Linked DNA regions of Homo sapiens: all the other regions are linked to region 4. Evidence: fine-mapped expression QTL. A gene starts in region 4. Each other region holds a variant in brackets. All regions are shown on one strand. Distances are from middle to middle.

Region 1 (5,106 bases), 50 kb before region 4:
GGAGGCTGAGGAGGGTGGATCACGAGGTCAGGAGATCGAGACCGTCCTGGCTAACACAGTGAAACCCCGTCTCTACTAACAATCCAAAAAATTAGCTGGGCATGGTGGTGGGTGCCTGTAGTCCCAGCTACTTGGGAGGCTGAGGCAGGAGAATGGCATGAACCCGGGAGGCGGAGCTTGCAGTAAGCCGAGATCGCGCCTCTGCACTCTAGCCTGGGCAACAGAGCAAGACTCCATCTCAAAAAAAAATAAAATAAAATAAATAAAAAAGAACAAAATAAAAAATAAAAGTTTTGGTGGGAGCAGGTCTCTTTGTGTGATATATGTATATGGGGGTGGGGTGTGTATATGTGTGTGTGTGTGAGAGAGAGTGAGAATGAATTAATGAATTAATGTATGTATGTCTGTAGTAGAAGTTCTTTTTCCCAGAGTGTGTAATTTGTGTAAGTCCAGTCATAATTGGCTAAACAGGCCAGATCTGCAGTACCTATCTGTCTTAGTTTGCTCAGGCTGCTGTAACAAAAATGCCAAAGACTGGATGGCTTAAACAACAGGAAATTATTTCTCATAGTTCTGGAGGCTGGAAAGTCTAAGATCAGGGGTCCAGAATGGTCAGGTTCTGGTGAAGGTCCTCTTTCCGGAATATAGATGGCCATCTTCTCATTGTGAGCTCACATGGCGGAAAGAGAAAGAGAGAAAGCAGGTTCTCTAATGTCTCTTATTATAACAGCACTAACCCCATCATAAGGGATCCACCTTCATGACCTCCCTCCCTCCCAAATGCACCATCTCTAAATATCATTACACTGAACATTAGAGTTTCAACATATAAACTTGGGGGGTACACAAACATTCAGTCCACTATCTCTCCACTCATGCTCTTTCCATATTCTGTTGACCCAGAGGATTCAGACCCTTATTTTCAAAGCGCCGTATATTCCTTCATGCTCTGGCTGACTGCCTTCTGCTTGAGTGACCCACCACCCTTTCTCTTCCTAGCTCCATTTTCTTCCTCTTACATGTACAAATCCTCCCTATCTTGAAAATGTCTTTATAGATTGAGTTTGAGTCCTAAGTATGGGTGTGGGGCTTCAGGAAAGTCCCTACACTTCTGAAGCAGGAACTCGTGTTTTACAGTTCCTAGGGTCTTTTGTTGCTGATTGGCTGAAAGTTAGGTAAGCTAGAGCTTCGGTAAGGGGCTTTTGTTCTTCTCCTCTAGACCAGATCACAACAGGAAGCCAGCCAGCCTGTTTCAGTGGGGTTATCAATAAAGAGATTTCTGACTTTTCTTATATTTTTTTGCTTTTTAAACACTTGCATATTTTTCTCTATATACCTCAGGAAATTATGGAATGATGAAACCTCAGAGTAGAAGAGATCTAGAGAGCAACTGGTTGTACAGCCCATATCAATCTTTTAGTTTTCTTTCCATCAGTTTTTTACCTGACTTCCCAATCTCAGCTTCATTTTTCATAGCCTCCTCCTTTACATTTTCATCTTGAGCATTAGATTGCAGCAGGGATACATTTATGTTTCTTGTTTTGACTAGAGAACACCCCAAGGCTGGCCCACAAGGAGGTGCAGATCCCTGGGGAATGGCCACCTGCGAGCAGTCAGCCTGCTCACTTAGCTACCTGTTGTGGATAAAAGCCCCATCAGTGTCAACTGTTGTGCTCAGAGCCCTGCCAGTGTTAATCCAAAATGAAACCATCCTTGATCATTGCAACCATGTTTCCTAATGCAAAACAGCATGGGCGCAGGCCAGTTCAAAAGGAGTCCTTTTACCCAAATGCAAAGGAAAAGGGTTTGGGTGACAACCATGTGAGTCAATAATTTTACGTTGCCTTGTAATCCTGCAGCTATTGGCATAAAATTGTTTGGCCTTTTAAAAGTCCTGATTATCGGTTCCTTGCCTTGACTGCTGACAACTGCTGAACTCCTTGCTCTACAAATGCCTCGAGCTTACTTCTGCCTATGTTCAACTTTATGCTTTCATTTGTTTGTTTCCTTTTATCCCCATGAAACCAATAGGCCAAATCTCCTCATGTTGTCTTTAGGCCTAGTTTCCAAAGAAGGCAAGTTCTTGCCAAAACCTACAGTTCATACTACACACACTATACACACACATACACAGAGAGAGAGAGAGCAAGAGAGAGAGAGACCGAGACCGAGAGAGAAAGAGAGCGCACACGAGAAAGTGAGAGAGCACAATTCCAAAATTATACCTTTCTTTGAAGGCAAAATTACCTTTGTGTCCACTTGCTCCTGCAGACTCTCCCATCTGCCTGCATCTTTTTTCTGCACCCCACTCATCCTGATCCTCTTGGTGTTTTATTATTAGAGATATACTTAGAGCCCTTCCAGGGAGACTCCAGATTCTTTTCAGGGCTTTTCAAAGCCTAGATTCTAGGGGTCTACAGTAGTTTACCTTTCTGGCCTCCCCAGGTGACCAGCAGCCCAGTGATGCTAACCAGATTTCTTGTCCTCCTGGTGCATTTATCAGAATCCCTGTCAGTTTCATTCAGGTGCTGAGCAGGAGGTAACACTGTGAAGAATAGCTGTTAACCAGTTCTCTCTGACCTCTATCGGTCCTAACTGACCCCAGAGCACAGCCCATAGGGATGCATTGTGCAGAACTAGCATGTTCATATGTCATTCTCTCAGGGGAGACTTTCAGCCAGGAAACAATCATCTTTATCACCTTTTTAAATGTACACGGTGGCTTTCCCATACACATATTCCTGTGTAGCATGTGTATTATTTTCATTCGTGGTCATTTTAACCACAATCAGAACTATAATAATATACAGTTACAGAGCACTCTGCATCCAGGAGTCTCACTGCATTTTA[C/T]AAACAGTAACTAATTGAGAGGAACTGCTGTGTACTTATTTGATAATACAGTTGTATCCTCTGTTTTAACAAAATGTTCAGTTCTTAACTGTTTATTGTCAAAGTAATTTCCTTCACATAATACAAATTAATGAGGAGAGAAAAAAGCAAATTTGTTTTTCATTAGTTACTAATTTGAGGATTTCCAAGCTAATTAATCAGAGTCTTTCCAGCCCATCCTTCCCACAACCCCTGCTTCTATACACTCAACAGATCAAACATTTTTCTTCCTAAGAATTTCATTTGCAGTTAAACATTTGTTTTGATTCCTTAACCTATACTAATTTTACATTGGCTTACATAGCTGCATTTTTTATAATTCTCTTTTTTCTTGTTCCCTCTCTCACGTAACTCACATGCACATATCAGGACATACACACCGTTTCTTGCCCATTTCTCTAGCAACTCCTCTTTTTCATTTAATCTCTCAAAATTATGCTTGCCTTTTTTTCTTTCTTTCTACCCTGGAATTTAACTCAGTGTCCTCAAGGGAGATATCTTTCAATTCGGAGTTATCTCCAAACACACACACAGACAGAGATGATAGCTTTCTGCTGCTAGGAAGATTATTAACTGCTTGTACAACTTTATCACATGATTTTTTTTGTGTTCTGACAGTTGCTTGTAAAATTAATATTTTACCTCAAGTTTTTCAACAGAGTTTCTATCATCATCACGTGTATTCTCCCTTATTGGGCTCACAGGCAAAACTCAATTATTAGTTGTGAAATAAAAGACTTTTCAGCAAAGACAGATCGCTCTGTTTGCATAGGAACTTCCCAGCAAGCCCATCTTCATGGTCCTGCAACCTGTGCAGTCTCACAGGGCCTGCGCTTAGAAGGGCCCCAAGCTTGATGTAATGCTCTGTTGTTGTGATCTTGAAATTCTTAATACTTTTTTAAACAGGAATCCCTGCGTTTTCATTTTGCACCAGGACCCACAAGTTATGCAGTCAGTCCTGCTTCCCTGGTGATGTTTGCTTCTTCCTTCCAAACCAAATACAGTACTGATATTTGTAGGTCCTGGAACCCCATGTAGTCAAAGGGGTTGGACTGGCTCCTTGGTGTGTATTATCGAGGTGGAGGATGCAATAGGCTACTCTCATCAGCAGAAACTTTCCACCATCCTGTTCACCTCCACTGAATCTCTTTTGAGTCTCTTAGGTCATTTGGTGACCTCCACTCCAACACATTTTTCTCCCCGGTCTTAGACCTCTGTTTTTCTTCTCTCAGCATTCCTAATCTGAACTTTGTCTCTCCCTCTTCTATCTCAAGTAATTTATCCTCAGATGATTGGGGGATGGCACAACCCAATAATTCAATGGTAGAGATACTAAAATTAATATCCAAAAACCTTTGGCCCTGAAGCCTGAGTTCAAATGTTCAACACAGCCGAAAAGAAATCTTCTGACAGTGACTAAAATGATGCCTAGAAGAAGCAACCACCAAGAGGTGAGCTGTGGGAGAAATAAAGAATCAGCCCTTTAAAAGAAAGGGATTCAATGATAGAGAATAAACAGAGATAAAAATAATACTGGGTCATTGGTTGGGCACAGTGGTTGACAATTGTAATCCCAGCACTTTGGGAAGCCATGGCAGGCGGATTTCTTTAGCTCAGGAGTTCGAGACCAGCCTGGGCAATGTGGCAAAACCCTGTCTCTACAAAAAAAAAAAAAAAAAAAAATTAGCTGTGCATGGTGGTGTGTGCCTGTACTTGCGGCTACTTAGGAGGCTGAGGTGGGAAGATAGCTTGAGCTCTGAAGGTCAAGGCTGCAGTGAGCCATGATTGTGTCAATGTGCTCCAGTCTGGGCAACAGAGCAATACCTGTCTTACAAAAAAGAAAATAACTGGGTCTAAGGAAAAGGCACCTATTCATTGCTTATGAAGATATATGCAAATAAATATGCAAAATGAAGTGAAAGGAAAGGGGAAAGGTCTTCCAATGAGTATAAAACTGATTGAATGTCAGCTGTCATCTCTTACTTAAGGGTCCATTGTAAAGGAAAGCTGAGACTATACTGGAAAACAAATGTGACAAGAACTGAACCACATCTTTCTCTTTTAAACATACATATACACACGCAACAACAATGACAATATTATTTTAGCTGGCTCGTTCTGTTGGTCAAGGGTCTTTATTGTTTTTCTTAGGTGCTATTATTTGTTAATGTATCTAGTACTTGATGTGTATTTTCAAAATACTAGATTAATTCATGA
Region 2 (5,106 bases), 200 kb after region 4:
ATCTTCTCCTGCCCCTTCAATTTATTTAAAGCTACAAGTAAGGGCAACAGTTCACCTGTCAGTCAAAAAGCACCGTGGCCCAGAAACAGGAAGAGACACACCCTTCATGGTCATAGAACCTACATGAACTTTGTGGCTGAGCTTTTTGACCACCTCACATGCCACTGAAAGCATCAAGCCAACTACCAGACTTTTAGAATGGGCATTTTATTAAAGAGTTCACAGATTTGAGATGGGGATAAGCAACAGTCTAGCTGTACTGGTTCTTTCTTTCTTCTGGAGTGGGTACACAGTCACTGGAAGTGCTGAATACAAGGGAGTGAGTGTGGAGAATTTAATTATGGGTGTTGATTAGGCAGCTGGATAATTGGGACTGACAATGGTGTCTGTATAGCACAACAAGGCAGAAATGGTCCTGGTCAATGTAAAATTGGTAAAATTTGCTGGGTTGTTTTCTCTCTGAAGATCTGAATTTTGACTACAGTAGTCAAGTATTCCCCTAATTGTGTGTTCTGTCTGCAAATGTATTTAGGAAGATTTTTTATCCTGGGACTTTATGAACAACTCAAAGTATAAATGGTTAGTAAAACTGAAAAGGGTTTAATGTGGCTGCTAATAAATAATATAAATAAAAATGATAATCCTCTAGCTTTTATCTGTTGTCCATCCTAATACTGCCAAGGATGGAGTTAGCAGGTACATTCATGTACTGAAGGGGCAAGGGTAACAAAATGTACCCTTTCTGTAAAACAGGGAGAAATTCATAATTTTCTAGCCAGTATTTACATTCTTAGGAGCCCTAATTCCCAGTACTTGGCAATCTATATTTTCATTATTCTGGTTAAGAATTACCCTCTCCTCACTAATGACTCAGAGGAATATAATGTTTCAAAGCAGAATTTCTTGACGTAGTTTCCACAGAAAACTTGTCCTGTTCTTTTGACTAATCATTTCAAGATCTGAAAAATACAGAGTCCTGGATGGTCCCTAGGGACTTCCATGATGAATGGTTGACATATTAATACTCTAAGAAATCATGCAGTAAAAAGACTTGCCTAACATTACCTTTTTTTTATTTCTCACAAATTTACTTGACCATGGAATCTGTTGGTCAGATTATACCTATCAACCTCCTCGGGTACTTTACAAAACCCTGTCCTACAGCAGAAATCCTCATAGAATGCTGTCATGGAGAAGTTAACCATCTGCTCAATGCTTTCTGCAAGCTCAGGAATCTCTGCTACTTTACCCTCAAGGTGAGATCACACAAGTCTAGTAAAATGAACTCACTATTTCACAAGGATGCCATATGGCTACTAAAAACTTCTTCCTTATATTGAGCCTAAACTTGTGATTCAGGAGCACTCACTCATTGCTACTAATTCTAGTCCCTGGAGCCACACAAGTTAACATTTTCTTCTATTTGGCAGGCTTTCAAATATCTAAAGATAATGATTATATACATACTGAGTTAATACATACTACTACAGGTTAACAAGCTCATGTCGTCAAATTTTTGGCTTGTGATGTTATTTTCAGTTCTTCAACATCCTAATTTTCCTCAATTATGCTTTACTTTGTCAATGTCCTTCTTATAACATAACCCCAAAGACTGCAGTTATGACAATATTATGGATATAATTAGAGCATTTAAAGACAGTGGGATTATTACTTCCCTCAGTCTCAACTATCACTTCATAGATTGCCACAGGTTGTGTTTCTGGAAAACAGGCTCTGAGATAGAGATTAGTGTGTGGGATCCACACCCACGGAAGGAAGAGATGGAAGTGTGACAGGACAAAGGGAGAAGTTGAGTAGAGATGCAGGATTGACAGAAATTGTCTCTCAGAGTTGACAAGTTGGCGATAACCAAGTTTAGGTGAGAAGGCTTACCTTCTATACCTTTCTCCTCCATCATCCATTCGTCACTGGATGAAGGCCACCTAGAAAGGGGGTGTCATCTCCTTAAGAAAGGCAATCCCCAAAGGG[A/G]CTGTCACCTGAGGGCTGGCAGCTGGCCACACTCCCAGCAGTGGAGGGAATAAGTCTTCCATTCCTGAAAGCTGTTCTGACAGCACATGATGGCATCCATCATACAGCTCATCCATGACCTTATAGACCCCAATGAGGGTTTATGTTAAACTCGACTGAGGACCGTGAATGAGTATCAAGGAGGTGAATGACATGACTGTTTTTGCATTTTTAGTGGCTCACTCATGCTATTGTACAGAAACTAGAGTGGAGCCAGGGTAGAAGCAGAGGAGACAGTCAGGAGGCCAGGGCTGAAGTCCTGGGTGAGACAAGGCCATGGCAGGGCCTAGAATGATGGCAGTGGGTGAACATGGAGAGACGTGACTACAGGTGGATCTATTTCAGAGAGAGAGCAGTTAGATCTTGTAAACAAAGTGAAGTCGATTGTGAGGAGTGAAATGGGGTTGGACATGACTCCAAGGGCACTGGCCTGAACCACAGAGGGAGGAGGGAAGTCATCACCAGGACAAGGAATACTGGAGGAGGGACCATTAGGATGAGGGTACAGAGGGGACATGCTAAGTTTGATGAGTATGAGACATCCAAAAATATAAAGTAAGCAGTTGTAAATATAGATCTGGAGCTCAAAAAAGAAATCTGAGCTGGCAGTATAAATTTGGGAGCCCATCGATGTGTATTGAGCCCTTGGAAAGAGATGGATATTCCAGAAAGATCCTATAGAATGAGAAAGAGAGAAAGGAAAAGGAGGTCCAAGACAGACACTTGAAAGGCCCCAAAATCGAGGGGCTGGTTAACAGAGGGTGACATACAGAGGAGACTGAGAAGGAAGGAGAAGAGAGAAGAGCAGAGGGAAAGCCAGAGGGTGTGGTGCCATCAGAGCCAAGGAAGGAGAGCATTGAGGAAGGAGGGAGCAGCAGTCGGCGGCAAATACTGCAGAGGGGAGAGTGAGAGAAGAACAGAAATGCCCAAGGGGAGTTATTGCTGAGTCAGCACTGCTTAGTAAGCACTGCTTCAGACAGACCTAAAAGATGTGAAGGGAAGAATAGAAATGCTTCTGTTTTATTTTGTTGTTGCTGTTGTTATTGCTATATTTTCAGCATCCTTCCTTCTGGCCACCAAGCACATGGCTTGGTGAAGAGTGGTCATCACATCGGCTGGCTGGCGTCTGGGATGGCACATGGCCCAGGCTGTGCCATCCCCTACTGTGTTCATTGTCCATGGCTGCTGTAACAAATGACCCAAAACTGGGTTGTTTAAAATAACAGGAATTTCTTCTCTCCTATGCTGGAGGCCAGAAATCTGAAAGGAAGATGCCTTCAGGGTCATGTTTCCTCTGGAGGTTTAGGGGAATATCCATTCCTGAGCTGTCCCAGCTCCTAGTGGCTGCTGGCATTCCTGGGTTTGTGTCTGCATCACTCCCATCTCTGCCTCAGTGGTCACATTTCCTTCTCCTCTTCTATGAGTAGATCTTATTATATCACTTATAAGTACACTTGATATGGCATTTTGGGTCCGCTTTGCTTGGAAATCTCCTTAGCTAAATATCCAAGTTCATCATTTACAAGGGATGCTGTCCACACAACTCTAGGGCACAATTCAGCTAAGTTTTGGTCACTGCATAACAAAGATCACCTTTCCTCCAGTTTCTAATAAAAAGTTGAGCCTTCATTAGAGGTGTCTTCAATGTTTATATTTCTACCAATATTTTGTTCAAAGCAATCTAGATTTTTTTTGCTGTTGTGCACCTGAAAATTCTCCCAGCCTCTGCTACTATTTAATTCCAAAGCCATTTATAAACTTTTGGTACCTGTTAAAACAGCACTGCATTTCCAGATGCCAAAGTCTGTATGATTTCCTATGGCTAAGCTTCTCCTCCTGTCACATCACTCATCTGAAGAGAAGGCACAGACCCCAACAGGGGCTCACCAGGGGCCTTCTCTGGGCTTTTAAAAACTTTGCCTGAAGTGAGAAGATCCTTGTTTATTCTCTAGTTAGGACTGTTAGCCTATGAGTCTAGGGTTGAAGGCAACCAGGTTCTCAGTAAGGTAGAGAAAGTCGATGTTGTCTATCTAGTCTGAAAAAGAAGGAAGCCAGCACACTAAAAGCACAGACAAGAAACACATATAGAGTGTGAAGGTTCATTTTGTATCCCATTTTCTACATCCCATTGCTCTTGAGGTCATGATCAAGCATGAGAGACTCCTTTAGATGTTGAATAAACAAAGCGGGGGGGGTGGTCTGAGGGGCAGAGGACACTTGGAGAGAGGGTGGCTCAGGAGGGAAGGGGTCAGCAGCTCCGGCACTGCAGAGTGTAGATAAGAAGACTGCAGAGACTGCCCTGGGTTCAGCCATCAGGAGTGACTGGTTAATGCTTGAGAACACAGCTCTGGGTGAGGACTGAGGCAGGATTGGAAAGGATTGGCCAGTGAGAGGGAAGTAAACAGGCTCAGAAGGGCACATGGGGATGAATGAGCTTTTGGTAGGAGAAGGAAGAAAACACAGTAGATGCAGGTAGGATTGGCAATTTATTGGCAGAAATATGAGGATTTTTATTTTCTCTATAAAATATGAGGCCAAGTCTGTTGTGCATGAGAAAGAGAAAAGCAGTAAAGTGTGCTGGGACTGGGAATGAGGGTGATAGACAGGAGTTCTGGGGGCTGAGAGTTTTGAAGAAAATGGAGAAGATAATAAAGTTAGTGAGGATGATGAAAAAATACCTGACTTGAAAACCATCCAAAATTGCCTGGCAATTTTGAGAGCCTGATTGAGCAGCCCTGTGAACCAAGTCACATTGCTGCTCATATTCAATTTGGGGCAGCCAAAGTCTCAAGGTCTCCAAAGGGTTATCAATCCAGTCCTCCTTGCTAAAGAAAACTCAGTCCTATGAGTTCAGTTCCTGAGCCTCTGAAGCCAAATGGAGATTGAGTAGAAAGAGATAGAACTGGGGAAAGGGAGGGGATGCTGCGCTGCATAGGGTTGAGATTTATTTTTGACCAAGACTAAGGAATAAAGGCAGAAAGAAAAAGGAAGAAAAACCAAAGGCCATGTTGGTTAGGACAGAGTTTAGTTTGGGGAGTTGAGAGTAGGAAGGAAATTAAGGGAGCAGCTGCCTGCCAG
Region 3 (5,106 bases), 290 kb after region 4:
TGTAATGCATTATATGTTAACCCTATCTCTCAACTAGTTTTCTTAAGTAAAAACATTGTTTTCTAAAACAAATAATTCCATCAAAAAGTGAACAAGTTACATGAATAGATATTTCTCAAAAGAAGATATACAAATGGCCAAAACTAACCTATGAAAAAATGCTCAACATCACTAATCAGGGAAATCCAAGTCAAAACCACAATGAGATGCCACCTTACCCCTGCAATAATGGCCATAATTATTAATAAAGCCTAAAAACAATAGATGTTAGTGTAGATGTGGTGAAAAAGGAATGCTTATACATTGCTGGTGGGAATGTAAATTAGTAGAACCTCTATAGAAAACAGTATGGAGATTTCTTAAAGAACTAAAAATAGATCTACCATTCGATCCAGCAACACCACTACTGGATATCTACCCAAAGGGAAAGAAGTCTTTATATCAGCACGTGCATGTTTATCACAGCACAATTCACAATTGCAAAGATATGGAACCAACCTAAATGCCCATCAACCAATGAGTGGATAATGAAAATGTGAGCTATATATGTATATATACACACACACACACCATAGAATAGTACTCAGCCATAAAAAACTTGGATAGACCTGAAGGCCATTATTCTAAGTGAAATAACTCAGGAATGGAAAACCAAATTCTGCAAGTTCTCACTAATAAGTGGAGGCTAAGCTATAGGTACATAAAGGCATGCAGACATAATGGACTTTGGAGACTCAGAAAGGGAAGATGGGATGGGGTGAGGGATATAAATCTGCATATTGGGTACAACATACACTACTCAGGCGATGGGTGCACTAAAATCTCAGAATTCACCACTATATAATCAATCTATGTAACCAAAAACCACTTGCAACTCCACAGCTATTGAAATAAAAAATGTTATTTGAATACAACATTGTTCTCTGATTACCAAACATGTAAAACTGCATGCATACTGTGAACATTATGTTTACAATATGGCAAAGCAAATAACAACAGCAATAAATAAATTTTGTCAGAAAAAGTACAGTGAAATTTTTTAATAAAAACAAGACAATTACCTGTAATAAACTGTCACTCACTGAGTGAGGAGAAAACTTGATACTTGAAAAAACTGAGAGAGAAGGAGAGCTGACAGTAATTGTCACTGGTTGTGGAAAGTGCTCATGTGGATGAGTGGGATGATAAAGAGTAATTTCAAACAAACCATCCAACTCAGAAACTAATGGAAACTCTCCATCATTTGTCACTGCTGAAAATGCACCTGAACAAAAGGGCCATGAAAAATTGTCAAAGGAGGTGACCAACATTTAAGGGAAAAAAATTTGTAAAATGTAGCTTTGTTTAAAATCCCATTATTTGCATTTGTTTTCTTCTTTCTTCACACTTTTCTTCAATACTTTTTAAAATTGTGTGTGTGTGTGTGCCTGTGTACATGTGACTCATTCATCACTAGTCAAAAATAGAGGCTAAATACAAAGGCACTTCGAAAATGCATTCAGGACAAGTATTACAGTGGCAAAGGCCAGTTCCCAAGGAGTGTGAGCTGTGTTGTCTCGCTTAGGGCCAGCATCTCCTTTTTGCTGGAACTCTGAATGCTTTTCAGAAAATCTTCATGAGATTCTGATGACTTATCCATTGTATTTGGAATGTAACCTGATACCTTTCCAGCACATCATTTTGTTAAAAATGCTATGAGTATTTGGAATGTAATTAGACACCACTTCTACATAACCATTGGCTGATAAAAATTTATATTCAGAGATATGTTCCATGATATTTGGTTATTGAAAAGAAGTATTCTACTGGAAACATACTAGTTGAAGAAAACTCTGAAACATATGCTTGTATTTTAATTTGCTTTCACAATCTGATTATTCTTTTCCCAATTGTATTTACATTCTCTGTTCTCCTCCCTACCTCTTTCTTGCCTTCAAGTCCAAATGTGGGCTGGTTTATGATTATTAATTATCAGAGAAGATATTAGACATTGTACTTTCACATTTTCAAAACCAAATTCAAGTCAGGTAAATCACCTGGCTGTCCCCTTCCATGGGATGGCCTTCATTTCACATTTTCCATTGCACTAAGTGTGCACAAAGTCCTGGCTGATTTGGAGGTCGCCTCTTGAGACTCTCCTGGCTTTAGCTGGCATTGGCTCTCCTTCCCTGTGTCTGTGCTGCTGCCAAAGCTGAAGCACGAGGTCTCAGTACAAAAGCCAGCCTCAGTGCTCCTGCCACCCAAGGTTCTGCTTTGACTTTAGCTCCCACCTCTGAGAAGTTCTTACTTTTGTACCAGTTCAACAATGAATTCTGAAAGATTTTTTTAAAAATTATTTCACTTGTTCCCATCAAAAAGACCGAGGAGGGCATCTGATCTGCCCGCACCACCCCCTTTATGATGTCTTTATTATTACCCATACCCAGAGAGTTGAAAGACTGCCAATTAGTAGCTTCATTTGTGCTAAATAAATCCAAAAATAAACTACAGACCAAAGAGTGCTATAATGTTTTAATGTGGCAAAATGCAACTTAAATCATAAGAGTAAAATTCAGGTGAATTGTTTATCCAACTGTCACAGAGGGCTTGTATTAAGCTTAGAGAGGCAGGTTGCTCACCAAATTTAGCAGGTTTACTGAGTTTGAATAGGGCCATTACTATTTTGGGATATCTGTTTTCAAAAATGTTACACTGTTTTTGTTCAAAATAACATTCTTATGAACACAGGGAAAAGCCTGGTAAAAAACAGGGATTATCTCTGGGTGATGGGAACTGTGGCTAATTAGCATGTTATTTCTGCTTATCTTTTTCCCTAAAAAGTCTACAATACACGTGTTTTATTTTTGT[G/A]AAAAGAAAATTGGCAATAGGTTTTCGAAGGCAAAGATATTATATAAAATATAGCATTTGGGGACAGGGAGAGAGTACCTACCTGGGGGCACCAGAAGATCAGTGCTTTGCTGTAGATACCACTGTGCAGACAGGTGCCTTTGATCAGAAAGAAGCAGAAAAAATTATAAGATGACGTGTGGTAGTAAATGGCATGGAAATGTTTAAGCATGGCAAACATAGCAAAGAATAATTTCAAAATGTTATAGGTCTAAGCACTCAGGAAGATATATTCCATTAACTCATAATAAAATGATGTAACTAGAAGATGTAAAATGAAAACAGTTCTTTTGAAGGCTGACAATGAAAAAACACTTCCTGAAATTGCCTAAGATTAGAAAATATATTTAAATTTTAATTAGGATGATTAATCCACTCAATATTCTACACACACAGGAAGGTACAAGGAGAAAAGCTGGCTCCTGCTTGAGGAAGCCCTTGCTGATGTCAGCAGAGTAGCTTCCTTACACAATCCATTCATTCAATTAGCAAATACTGTTGTGTACCTACTATATGCCAGGTACCACATTGAGTCCTGGGACCCACAGACAATAGTATATCATCTGTGCCCTCAAGAATCTTAAGCTTCTTTTAGGAAGATAGATTTGTACATGCACTACAGTGTAGCATGATAGAAGCATGTATATTAAGGACTAAATCCCTTCATGGCTTCCCCACAGCAGTGTTCTCTCCTATCTCCTGGCCATGTTATTAAGGGTCTGGTTTTTAGTCTTGGTATCTGACCTGTGTTCTCCAGTCCAGCCTCATGGGTTCAATTTTACTTGGTATACCTTTGCTGAGAGCAAAAGAAACAATTCCAATCACCTATTGCTTAAACAAGAGGACTTAACTAAATTTACATTAGAGGAACTAGAGTTCCAGTTTGTGGTGGAACAGTCACGTCCAGACCCTGACCTCCTTTCTATATTGCACAGTCAGTCATTGATGGTTAGAATATTTGGCCCCCAAAAGTGGTCAAGAAAGAAAACTCAGATACTGGTACTGGTGTTTTGCAATAGAGGACATACAGATTGATGGCCTCTGATCTAGGAACTTTCAGAAACTGCTTTAATTTTATAGTTTCTGCAGAATTGAAAAACTGTAACTCAAAGGGTATCTTGGTGTGTATTCAGGAGTACAGGCATGTGATACAATTGCTCCTATTTCCAAGGCCGCTTGAAGACTTAAATGTGAGACAATAGAGAGGCTTGAGAGTATGATGGGAAAGACGTCCATAACTTTCTGGGTTTCATGGCCTATGCTTCCTAGGGCCTCTTCTAGAGAAACTGTCCTATCCCTGGGTCTTGAAAGAGCATCCTAGGGCCGGGCACCATGGCTCACGCCTGTAATCCCAACACTTTGGGAGACCGAGGCAGGCAGGTCACCTAAAGTCAGGAGTTTGAGATCAGCCTGGTCAACATGGTGAAACCACAACTGTACCAAAAATACAAAACATTAGCCAAGTGTGGTGGTACACACGTGTAGTCCCAGCTACTCAGGAGGCTGAGGAAGGAGAATCGCTTGAACCTGGGAGGTGGAGATTGCAGTGAGCCGAGATCGCGCCATTGCACTCCAGCCTGGGTGATGGAGCATCCCAAAGGGAACATCACTATTGAGAGAGTAGGTCAATCCAATTTTCAGAAGAGTTTGAATTTAGCAATGGAAACTGTAGTGAAGCAGAAGTCATAATATAGAATTGGAGCTGTGGGCTTAATGGGTCATGGGAAAGATGAGTAAGAGAAGCTAATGAAAAGGGCAAGAATACACAGATGAGAGAAAAGCAAAGAGAGAGATTGTGTAGCCCCAGATATAGGGAAAGCATTAGTTTTTCACTTTTGTCTCTGAATCTATACATATCCATGCAATGACCTCACATTCACATATAACAGCCCCTTCCTGGGTAGCTTGGATGGCTTTTTCTTTGAATTCTAAAGAGCCTCAACTAAGACAAATCAGAATACCATTGAGCAGAACCAATTTACTACTTGGCATAAGCAATATTCAAATGCTTCAGTGGGTAAACAAGCTGTAGTGAAAACCAACAGAATACTGCAAAACAAATGGAGAAAAATGCACTGCTGGCTACCATAACACCTAATCATACAGGGCAAATGGATTGCATGTTCAACTGGAAATTCAAAGAATAACCAAGATACATGCCACAGGAGACATTTTAAGCCACCTTCTCTGATGGAAATAACAGCTTGAGTGCCTTGATTA
Region 4 (5,106 bases):
ATACAGTGGTTCTTTTTGAGAATTTCATTCCCAGCAGTTTCATCTTGGTAACATTTAACAATTTCACTATTTTACCATTTTGAAATGCCAAAAAGAACACACTGATCCTGCAGCTAGGCTTATTAGAGAAGAGCAATCTCACAGGCAAGACAGAGAGGAACATGGTCCACTGGGAAATGGGTAACAGAAAAAGACAGAAAACAGTGGATAACAAACAAAGCCAAGCACTACTTCAATGTGAGACCTGGTGTTCATCAGAATTTAAAACTTTACACACTAAATAATAATCACTTATGGCTTATTTAAGGTTCTAGTCATAACATTCTTTTTACATACATATATTAATGTTATTAAAATTCAGGGGCATGAATATCTAATTTGCTTTCCTAACAACGAGTATGCAAGCACAGTAATTTTATTTGTGAAAGGCCAGAATTGGGTATTTCCACCTTGTGGCATCATTGTACCCCCATGGACACTGAGAAACACAATGAGACCTCTCCCCATCAGACACTTGATACATACCTCAGCCAAGAGCGCTCCTCGCCTGGAGTGGGAGACATCTTTGAAACAAAAAGAGTCGGTTTACAGTAAGTTCTCCTGATAAGCTAAAATGGATTAGTTTTTTAAAACCATGTCCCACATCAAGTCTCTTGCCCCACTATGGTAACTGCCATTGTGCCTACAAATAAGTGCCTGTAGTATGCAATGTTTAAAATTCTGGAGGTGCATGTCTTCTGCTCATGTATGGATATAATCTGAAAGTAATTTGTCTCACTTAAGAAACTATAAATGGCCTTTTATTTTTATAAAATTGCTCTTAACTGAGTTAGAGAGCGGGGGAGGGGGAGGAGTACCAGGGAAAAAAAGGACAGAGAAAAATCAATTAGTGTATCTTCCCTTGCAAACTGTCAGTAGGGTAGGATTAGAAAAGCAACACTTTAAATCACATAAAGTCCTATGGGAACCTTAAAGGTTGGTTGCTCTGAGCTTCTCAATATTCTGCAAAATAGATTGATGTCAGTGGTGACCCCACTAATACTCAGTGTCCGCTAAGCTTCCTCTAAGAAATTGCATTTCCCCCATTGTTCAAAAGATATTAACTTGGTAATAAAAATGAGGAGAAGTTATGGGACCCACAGAGATATCTTTCAACACCTTTAAAACCAGTAAATCTGTTCTAATCTCTTATTGGATTACATGCCCGAGGAGGCTTACTATATCAGGAAATCAACAACAAAGGCAAGAATAGCACTTATTTGGAGGAAAATAAAAAAAGATGGGAGGCAAAATGATTAATACGTTACTAAACATTTCTTTTGTTTTTTTATCTGTTCAATTTTAAATATCTGAGAGACAATCTATTAAAATCAGAAACATGCATGTTGCTTTTAAACTTCCAAATGACCAAATGACAGTTTCTCATGTCTATTACAGCAAACATATTTTTATTTGAGAGGTGATCCGTTTATGATTTGTAAGCCTTAACAAGAAATGTCTTTTAAAAATGCAACATTAACTTTAGTCATCTAACAGCTAGTTCTGAGTTAAACGGTTCCATCAACATTCAATTTTAGGTATTAGTTACATGGACATTTGTTTTTCCTCAAAGAGAAGTGGTTCCTGTAGCTTTTTATCAAAAGTTTATTATTTGACATACATCTCTTTATATGACATTTACTATTTTACATTAGTCAGTTTCTAGGCTTGCAGCAGAGATCGATGTATTTCCCTGGGAAGACTTAGCTGCTAACATGGTTTATAGGCATTCAGCACCAACTCAAGCGCCCGTTTTTCAAACATGCACAATTACCCATTTTCTACAAACAGACATCAGTGCATACAGAGCCAGGTGCACACACATTCAATAAATAGTAAATGGTAGAAATCTCCAGAAGTAGAACAGATCACAGTTAACAGGCTGGGGCCATACAGCTAAGTAAACACCGACGCACGATTCGCTCACACGGAATAAGAACTCCACGAAGGACACTTGGGGACCACACTGGTCGTACCCGAGGGGGCGGGAGGCGGAAAAAGTATTTCCAAACGCAACTCTGCCAGGTCTTACCCTTCGCATCCCCTGGTCCTCGGGACAGAAGCTCCCTTGGCACCTCTCGCCCAGCTCAGGGGCTGGTTGTCCGCTAGAACGAAATATCCCCCACTGACTACGGAGAGCTCTGCAGGGAGCCGAGGCCCCCGCCCGGGCCAAGGGAAGGCGCTGGCGCCGCGGGAGACAAGAAGAGGCGGAGGCGGAAAAGAAGTGGAGAAGGAAGGGGTGGCAGAGGGAGTAGCGTGCGGGAGGCGGCGCCGGCGCCGGGCTGCTGGCGAGGCGGGGTGGGGTGGAGTGGGGTGTGCCTCCGGCGGGCGGTCAGCAAGTCAGTCCGTCCGAGCGCCGGCGTCCCGGTCTCCAGCGCCCGCCCGCGACAGCGACCGGGACTGGCGCCCCGCTGCTCCGACCGCCGGCGAGCCTCGCCCCTTCCCAGGCTCTTCACTGGGTCCTCCCGCGAGCCCCGCCTGGCCCGGCGTGGGGCCGCCCGTCTCCGCCAGCCCGGGCGCCCGTCGCCTCGTCCCGCTCGCGCAGTCCCTGCCGCTCCCTCCGCTCGCGCTGTCTCTGGCTCCCTCTCGCTCCAGTCCCATTTATGAAGCGCGGTCCCATCACGTGTTAATGAGCCTTTGTCCTGCCCTGGCAGCGGCGGCGGCACAGACCCCGCCGAGGGAACTGCGCGGGGAGGGACCTGAGCGCAGCGCCCGTAGCCCCAAACTTTGCTTGGGGCGGGGGACCCGCCGCGGCGCCAGCCCTGGGGCCAGAGGGGACAAGCCTCTTCGGCCCGCGTCACCTACTTCTCCTCTTCCTCCTCCTCCTCCGCCGCCGCGCTCCCGGAGGCCCCCGCTGCCATGACCTCGCTGTGCTCCCGGATACCCTCACACCCTGACCAGGCCAAGAAGGGGCTGGTGCATGCGCCGCCCACGACCTCGGGGCCATTAATCACACGCTCCCGGGCAGCGCGCATCGCCAACACCTTCCGCGGGGGTCACGTCTGGGGCAGCGGGCTGAGCCGGAAGGGGAAGGGGAGCGGGAGCCCAGAGGCCGAGGCGCGCCGGGCCCGGGGGTGCGGTCTCGCGCCCCCTCCCTCCGCGCAAGGCCGCTCCCGTGGCAGGCGGCAGCGAGCTGGGCCCGGGGCCGGGCTGAGCTTTGGGACCGCGCTGCGCAGCCCCCGAGCCGTTCGCTACCTGGCTGCGGTCGCGCGGCCACCTGTCCTCCGCCCTCGGGGCGCCGCCCAGCTTCGCGCCAGGCGCCTTCTCCAGCGCCCGCCGCCCTTTCCCGGCGAGACCACTCGGGCGCGCCCCGCCCGCCGGTCCCCGATGCAAACAGTTGGGCTCCGTAGGCGGCTGGCTCCGCGCCTCCCGGCCCGGCGCGCCCCCTCCCCGGCCACCCGGGGCCCCGCTCCTCGCACCTTTTCGCTGGAGGAGGACGCCCCACTCCAGGGCCGGACTGGGGGCTCTGGGACTCGGGGGCGGCAGCGGCGGGCGCCTGGGGAGCCGCGGTGTGCTCAGCAGCCGCGGCAGGAATTAGGGGACATGCTCGTTAATTGTTTCCACTATCAGCCGCCGTCTGCCTCCTGTGTGCACGGATCAAACCTTAATTGGTCTTTACATTTATCATGGTGAATTGCGAACCTCCAAACAAGCCTGGGCCGCCGCTTCTGCCGAGGAGGCGCTCCCCTCCCCTCCGCCCCCGGGGCCCTGCAGGGTGTGCGGCGGCGGTCGTGGTTATTTAGACATCTTTATCTCTCGTGAGTTGGATCGGGAGAGGATCGCACGGTTTCCACCTGACGGAGCCACGTCACGTCGGCCACAAGGGCCCCGTGCTGGGCGCTGGGTTCGGTTCCCGGCCGTCCTCTTGTGGCCGCCTTGGCGTTCATTTTATGACACCTTGCCGGTGTTCCCAGACATCATCCCGCACCGCTCCGTTTTACCGACCTCCAGGTCTTCCCGCCCCTGATCAGACCCCAACAGCAACCGTACTATATCTGGACCCTATATTTGAACTACGTGGTGAGAATCTGTGAAAGCGAGCCTCTCAGGGAAAGAAGGAAGATTGTTGAGTTCAAGGTCCTGGAGGAGGGAAGGCTGTAAAACCGTTTTGGAAACGTCAGGCCAAATCGTACAAAGGCTTCCCGCAGAGCACTAGTGCAGTTTTTGAAAATCCCCCTAGACTGCTTTAGACTAGAAGTATTTCCGTCAAGCAAATGACCATTTGACTCCATTGAGAGAGAGAGTCCACCGCTGAAATGATTAAGTCCTACTAGGTGGGTGGTTAGAAAAGGTTATCAATAAAGTTCTGATGGACCCATCGATAGATGGAAGAATGACTGGGAGATAGATAGTAGATGTGGGATTAGTGCTGAGCCTTAACCCTGCTGCTTGGGGAAGGCTCTACTCACAGGCATTTTTAGCCCACCTCCATGGCAGAGACAGCTCCAGCGCAAGATTCAAAGGGAGGAGGCTTCAACATCTGTTGCTTTTTTCTTTTAGGGGTCGTGGTTGTTAGATTTTCCCTTCACCTCACACCCCTGGCAGTAGGAAATATTTGCAAAAATTTTCTCTCCTTATGACCTCGCAGACTCTGATTTCCCAAGAGGCCAGATGACAATAACTTCAAAGTCTCTCCTCCACCTGGCAGCTCAGTTTCAAATGACTGCTAGTAATTAAAAGAAAGGATCAAGGCAGCGCTTCCTCTGACTGTGATAAGGACATCTTCAGTCACAAGAAACCTGGGGGAGCTGGACTCCTAGAATGCTTTCAGGCCACAGGATTTCACTTGGGTGCTACCACCCTCCCCTGTAGCTGGAGGGCGTGAGCTGTTGGAGTGGCAGAGCTGTTCAACATCACTCAGCTAAACAACACTGACACACCCTGGTGGTGCTCCTTCTATAAGGAGCACTTTCCCACATGTTGATCTATACCTTCGTGGTGGTCAGCATCAACCTGTGAAAGGTATTCCATGGAAATCTTGTATCTCAACTCAGCCACACCAGCTTTTGCTTTTTCATAAAGAGGAACAATCTGATTATTGTGTCTCTAAGTCATCCCAAATATCTT
Region 5 (5,106 bases), 32 kb before region 4:
TTCAGTGCCTTTAATTCTTTGCATATATGTAACCTTTGGGAAAAAATATACATTGCAGGGTTTGACATTATGTATGAATTCTATGCACATAGATTGACTGCTACTGAGTCTCCAGGAGGCTTTGGAGAGAGCAAAGTGGCACTGAATTTGATCATAGAAGACAGAATCATATTTTTAAAAGAATTCTCCCAGCAATTCAGCTACATAGCAAAGGTTTGTCACTTTTCCTCTCAAACCCTTCTGGCTGTCAGTGCTCTTGGAGGAAGGTAAGGAGGAATGCAAACAAACTACTGGGGTGAAATCCAATAATAGAGTTGGGCCCTACTGGGGGCTCCTGGGAAGAAACAGCCCATCTAACGTTACTTCCACTGCTATCTCATTGTCCAAATCCTGCAATTAAAACCTTTCATTAGGCCAGGCGTGGTGGCTCACGCCTGTAATCTCAGCACTTTGGGAGGCCGAGGTGGGTGGATCACCAGGTCAGGAGTTCAAGACCAGCCTGACCAACATGGTGAAACCCTGTCTCTACTAAAAACATAAAAATTAGCTGAGTGTGGTGGCACACGCCTGTAATCCCAGCCACTCAGAGGCTGAGGCAGGAGAATCGCTTGAACTTGGGAGGCGGAGGTTGCAGTGAGCCGAGATCGTGCCACTGCACTCCAGCCTGGGTGACAGAGCAAGATTCCATCTCAAAACAAACTTTCATTAATACCGTACCTTACAGACTTAAGGTGTGGCCAAAGAAGTGATCCTGTCTGCTCACAATGCCAGCCATTTTCCCTTTGAAGCAACCAGGAGAAAGATTTAATGGGGCCTCATAAATGGGTAAGGGAAGAAGTACAGCCAACATCAAACTGAGCTACTAAGTCAGGCTTTCAACTCAGGCTTAGCATCCTTTCTGCTTCAGCACAGTAGCTTCACTGAGTCTCTGCAGCTTTAGGGAGCCATTGCCTGAGGAAGTAGCTGGTGATGATGGCCATTTTGGAGAGCCTTGGGAGAGGATGCAACACACTATAGGAGGCTGAGGTGCTTAGTCTTCTGGGCATGCAACAGACATGGACAAAACACTGCTGAATGGCAGTAAAATCTGCTCAGCGTTCTTTGCCTTGTTTATGATCTTCTTGTTATTTAGGAACTAATTACACAGTCTGCAGAGTGTCTCTGTTCCCAGGCCTTGTGCTGCTCTCTGACCACTTGCCTGCCTGTTATTTCTGTCTGTAGACAGAGGTCAGCAAGAGAAGCCATCAGAGTTTAATCAAACTTCTCCCCCACTTGTTAACATCAGTGACAAAATCTTTGATGAGAACAGAATGTTTCATACTTGGCTATCAAGGATTCGGGGATCTAGGGATTATTTATGGATTTCGTTAAGCACTTAATTCCCATCCACTGCTATTGTGAATAGCTGAGGTTTTGCCTATATCCCTAACACAATTTCAAATCTGCAGAGGGGCTCCTATGCCCTGAAGTGCTGAGCATGTTCAGGTTGTCATGCCTATCCAAGAATTCTGGGTTGCACAATACAAAAATATGCAAGAAGCACTTGTGTAGGATTACAGGGCAAGACAGGTGAAAATGTTTTAAAGTGTAGGAACATCTCACTTTGAACAATAGAGCTGTTTCAGAAAAAGTTCTTGTAAAATGGATTTATGAACATTTAGTTACATTTTAATCGACCAGAGGAGTTGATAACTCAAGGCTCACTGTGCAATGAGCTCTTTTGCAGGTGCAAAGTATTTATGTGAAGAAATAATTCCCTCCCCATTTAGCTTTTTATGAATTTGAATTTTAATATATCAAGTTGTCTTAAAACACCTGTATAGCTAAATCTGCCAAGATGCTTTTCACTGAATATCTGGTAGATGAAGGAACTCATTCTCCCAGGGAAATATTATAAACACTTTCAAAGCTGAGAAATGCTTATTGTAAATTGAACATAAAGTTTTCAATGGGCCACACCTAATTAGGTTTCTACGCCTCTTGAACACTCACTCTCCGCATATGGGAGAAAAGCAAGGAGAGCAGTTCATATAGTCAGGTTTAGAAGTTTTTGCTTTGTTTAATGTTAAATCTATTTGTTATTGTATTTATGTATATTTGTTTCTAAATATTTATGTATATTAAGTTTCTAAATCTTGTATCTTTGCAAATACTTTAATCACTTGCCTACAGAATTTTCATTTAGATCCAAAGAATCAGAATAAGCTCATTTTCATTTATAAATTTCATCTTTTTCTGCTGTTTATGCCTCATCTTTTCTCTTCTACTCCTAAACAAAAGCTTGTGTTTTTAGCTCCC[A/G]TTTTCCAGATGATTGCTCTGTCTTTGCTGTCATTTGTGCAGACGGCTTCAGAGTTCCTGCACAAGCATATAGTGCCATAAAAATAAGCCAGATTTTTTTAAAAAAATGTTTAAAACATAGTAAATCTGCTTTTGCCTACTGTTTGACTTTCTCTTGGCTCACTGCCTGAGATCCATTAGGTACACTTGGAATATTCTAGCCCTGGACACGAAGGAAAGAATTTGCTTTTAAGATTGCTTTGTACTATTTAAAGTCAGAGATGATAGTAACCAGAACAATGGAATTGAGCCTTGTTGCCAAGTCTTTTGGTTTATGGCTCTTCCTTGGCTTTGGTATTCATTCTCATCTTTGCATCTGAGATGAGAAGTCCTATTTTGGTTAATGACAACTTCCCTCACACATGCCTAATCATCCTTAGAGGCAGACCTGGAGGCTCTTTTGGTTGTTTAGGCATATGTTCATTTATAAACAAAAATGAGTGTATTCTGATTCTTCTGGTCTAAATGAAAATTCTATAGGCAAGTGATCAGTTAGTAACCTATCCCACAAGACAGGGCAGGAAAAATTAGAAATGGAGAGTCATGGAAGCTGACTGTATTGGTGGACACCACGTTTTAACCATAGTATTGTTTGTTTCTGGTTCCTAAGCACCAAGGGAAGTCTACTAGCATGCACACAAAGCCTCAAGAAGCTTCTTTACTTCAGGCATCTCCTTAGGCCACCTTGTTAAAGAATTTACTTTCATAATCAGTTTCTAAGAATCAGTATTTCTTTTCCTATTTTCCTCCACTTGGACATAACATGATTAGAACAAAGAGTTCTCATGCTTTGGGACTGATCAGAATCATCACTAAAGAAAAGACTACCAACAGTCCTACCTTCATGTAGGAACTCTGTTGTTTTCCCTCCACTTGCACATCATAATGGCTGTGAGAAATGAGGCTCTGGAGGAAATCAATTCACATGGAGCCCCATCTTCTTGGAGGGCTCTCTGGGAGGGGCAACTGCACCAAGATTTTTGTTGAACCATATTTGCTGCAACGATGACGTGTCCATCACACTCATATCTCTCGAGAGGCCCCCTGGGAGATAGTGGCATTTTGCAGTGAGTGTGGCCTATTCTGGGTCATACCAAGGACTATTTGGATCTATCTAATTTAGGTAAATAATGATGAAATACATAGGGGTTTTCCCTGTCTTAAGAACTGGAGGATGTTTTCGAAGGCTTTCTTCAATCAGTGGGAGGGTACAAACACTTGAAAGTATTCACACTGGATTACTGGGTAAGACAAATTGCTCATAGCCACCCAGGTTAGAAAGATTGGGATTTAACATGACAAGCAATCAGAGGCTGAATCGAATGGTTAAAGGGTCTGTGTCCCTTTGTAGAATAATCAGAGATTGTTAATGAAGCACAAACCAGAAAAATTGTTATTAGGCTTGTAAGTGCTGGTAATATAATGTGTCCAAAAATACATGGCAAAGCTTACTCTCCCTTAAAAAGACACAAAATTTACACAAAAAAATTTTGTGAAATGTGTATGGTAAAATCTTTATAAAAGCTGTGAAATGTGCAATTGATTTGGAAAAGGGTTAATGCCAGAATATTTTAAAGCTTTACTCCCCTCCTTGCAGTGTAATCCAAAGATGTCTTCTGTTTTTTCCTTCCTTTATAAACTCAAACTCTTAATTGAAAAGCAGTCTGTGTTACTCAATATGAATGAAATAAGTACACTTGGGTCAGGTGTAGGGTTGGGTTGCTTTGGACAGTTTAAAAAGATTCTCCTCTTAGCCCTTATCTGTTTGTTCCCTGAAGGATTTCTGTATCCCTTCAGGCAAACCAAGCAGTAGCAGCAGCAATAATCTTATTTACAAAGGGGGCAGGAGGGCAGAGGGCTGGAAATCCCAAGGGCTAGTGCTCAATATGGTCCCTGTCATCTTGAGATCAGAGGGTTTGCCCCAGCCCAGGTGAATAATGACCAAGAACACTTTGTGACTGATGACTCTGCTATGTATGGGGAGTTAATTGATGTCCCTCTGTTCCAAGTGAATAATCCACTTTCTAGCAATGATGGTAATGTCATCAAGTGGGAAAATACACAGCCAGCTAATGTAGAAACAAGATATAGAGTCCCCACCCCCACCCCGGACTCTCTTCTGGGCAAGCAGGAAGTGATACTTTTACAGATACATGCAATGCTTTTAAAAAATCTCCGAACTAGCAGAACTAGGAAAAAAGCTATCTAAACTTTGACCTTTTTGACTAATATTATGAATCTTCTCAGACCTCTGTAAACCACAACGCAGGTGCATCAAGAACAATTAATCACCTTAGCATCTATGACCCTTGGTTATCTGGCCCTCCGCCCTCATCCTCATTACTCTCCTTCACGTACCATGTCCCATACACATGAGACTATGTGTCATTCACTGGACATATCACACTGTCTTACATCTCTCCCCTCTTACCCCCAACTCACCATAATTTATCTCCTTGGAGCTTCCTTTATCCCCATTTTTCCCTTTATTCTTTTCATAGCTAGCTCTTACTTTGTCTTTAGTGCTCTATTCAAGCATCACCTCTTCTTCCTAAATCAGGTATTTGTGCCCTTTCTAGTTTCCCATAGCCTCCTCCATTTTAGCATTGATTGCACTGTGTTGCAATTATCTTTTTAAGTGCTCACCTACTTTCATTAGATCTTCAGTAATTTGATGGTTCACCATGGTGGATATATGCACAGCACAGTTCACTTATATAGAAATTGGCTTATGGGTCTCAACTCAGTAACCTAATAGTTAAGAGTGAA

Alleles and levels. Alleles are on the strand shown, and positions count from the first base shown. SD is a standard deviation of normalised expression in the study named. Not every link is listed here.
In carriers of allele C in region 1, the expression in lymphoblastoid cells of the gene that starts at base 2,616 in region 4 tends to be higher than with T alone (moderate effect, 0.40 SD a copy in TwinsUK).

The links. PIP is the estimated chance that this variant, and not a neighbour inherited with it, causes the effect. A credible set is the group of variants that fine-mapping cannot tell apart.
Region 1: its variant is the best candidate, but not a certain one, in a credible set for the expression of CNR1 in lymphoblastoid cells (TwinsUK, PIP 0.83).
Region 2: its variant is the best candidate, but not a certain one, in a credible set for the expression of CNR1 in fibroblasts (GTEx, PIP 0.69).
Region 3: its variant is the best candidate, but not a certain one, in a credible set for the expression of CNR1 in whole blood (INTERVAL, PIP 0.73).
Region 5: its variant is the best candidate, but not a certain one, in a credible set for the expression of CNR1 in whole blood (TOPMed, PIP 0.52).

The regions. Positions count from the first base shown.
Region 1 is chr6:88,113,868-88,118,973 of GRCh38, forward strand. No RefSeq gene overlaps it. Among named protein-coding and RNA genes, the nearest start is that of CNR1, 50 kb to the right of the region's middle. The variant C/T (reference allele first, on the strand shown) is at 2,851.
Region 2 is chr6:88,367,351-88,372,456 of GRCh38, forward strand. All of the region lies in intron 2 of LOC105377885 (a long non-coding RNA gene), which reads right to left. Among named protein-coding and RNA genes, the nearest start is that of CNR1, 200 kb to the left of the region's middle. The variant A/G (reference allele first, on the strand shown) is at 1,990.
Region 3 is chr6:88,453,344-88,458,449 of GRCh38, forward strand. No RefSeq gene overlaps it. Among named protein-coding and RNA genes, the nearest start is that of CNR1, 290 kb to the left of the region's middle. The variant G/A (reference allele first, on the strand shown) is at 2,848.
Region 4 is chr6:88,163,732-88,168,837 of GRCh38, forward strand. It overlaps CNR1 (cannabinoid receptor 1), which reads right to left and starts at 2,616. Exons shown (of 2, transcript NM_016083.6): 1 at 2,072-2,616. RefSeq lists silencers at 2,293-2,972, 3,033-3,472, 3,543-3,742.
Region 5 is chr6:88,131,373-88,136,478 of GRCh38, forward strand. No RefSeq gene overlaps it. Among named protein-coding and RNA genes, the nearest start is that of CNR1, 32 kb to the right of the region's middle. The variant A/G (reference allele first, on the strand shown) is at 2,299.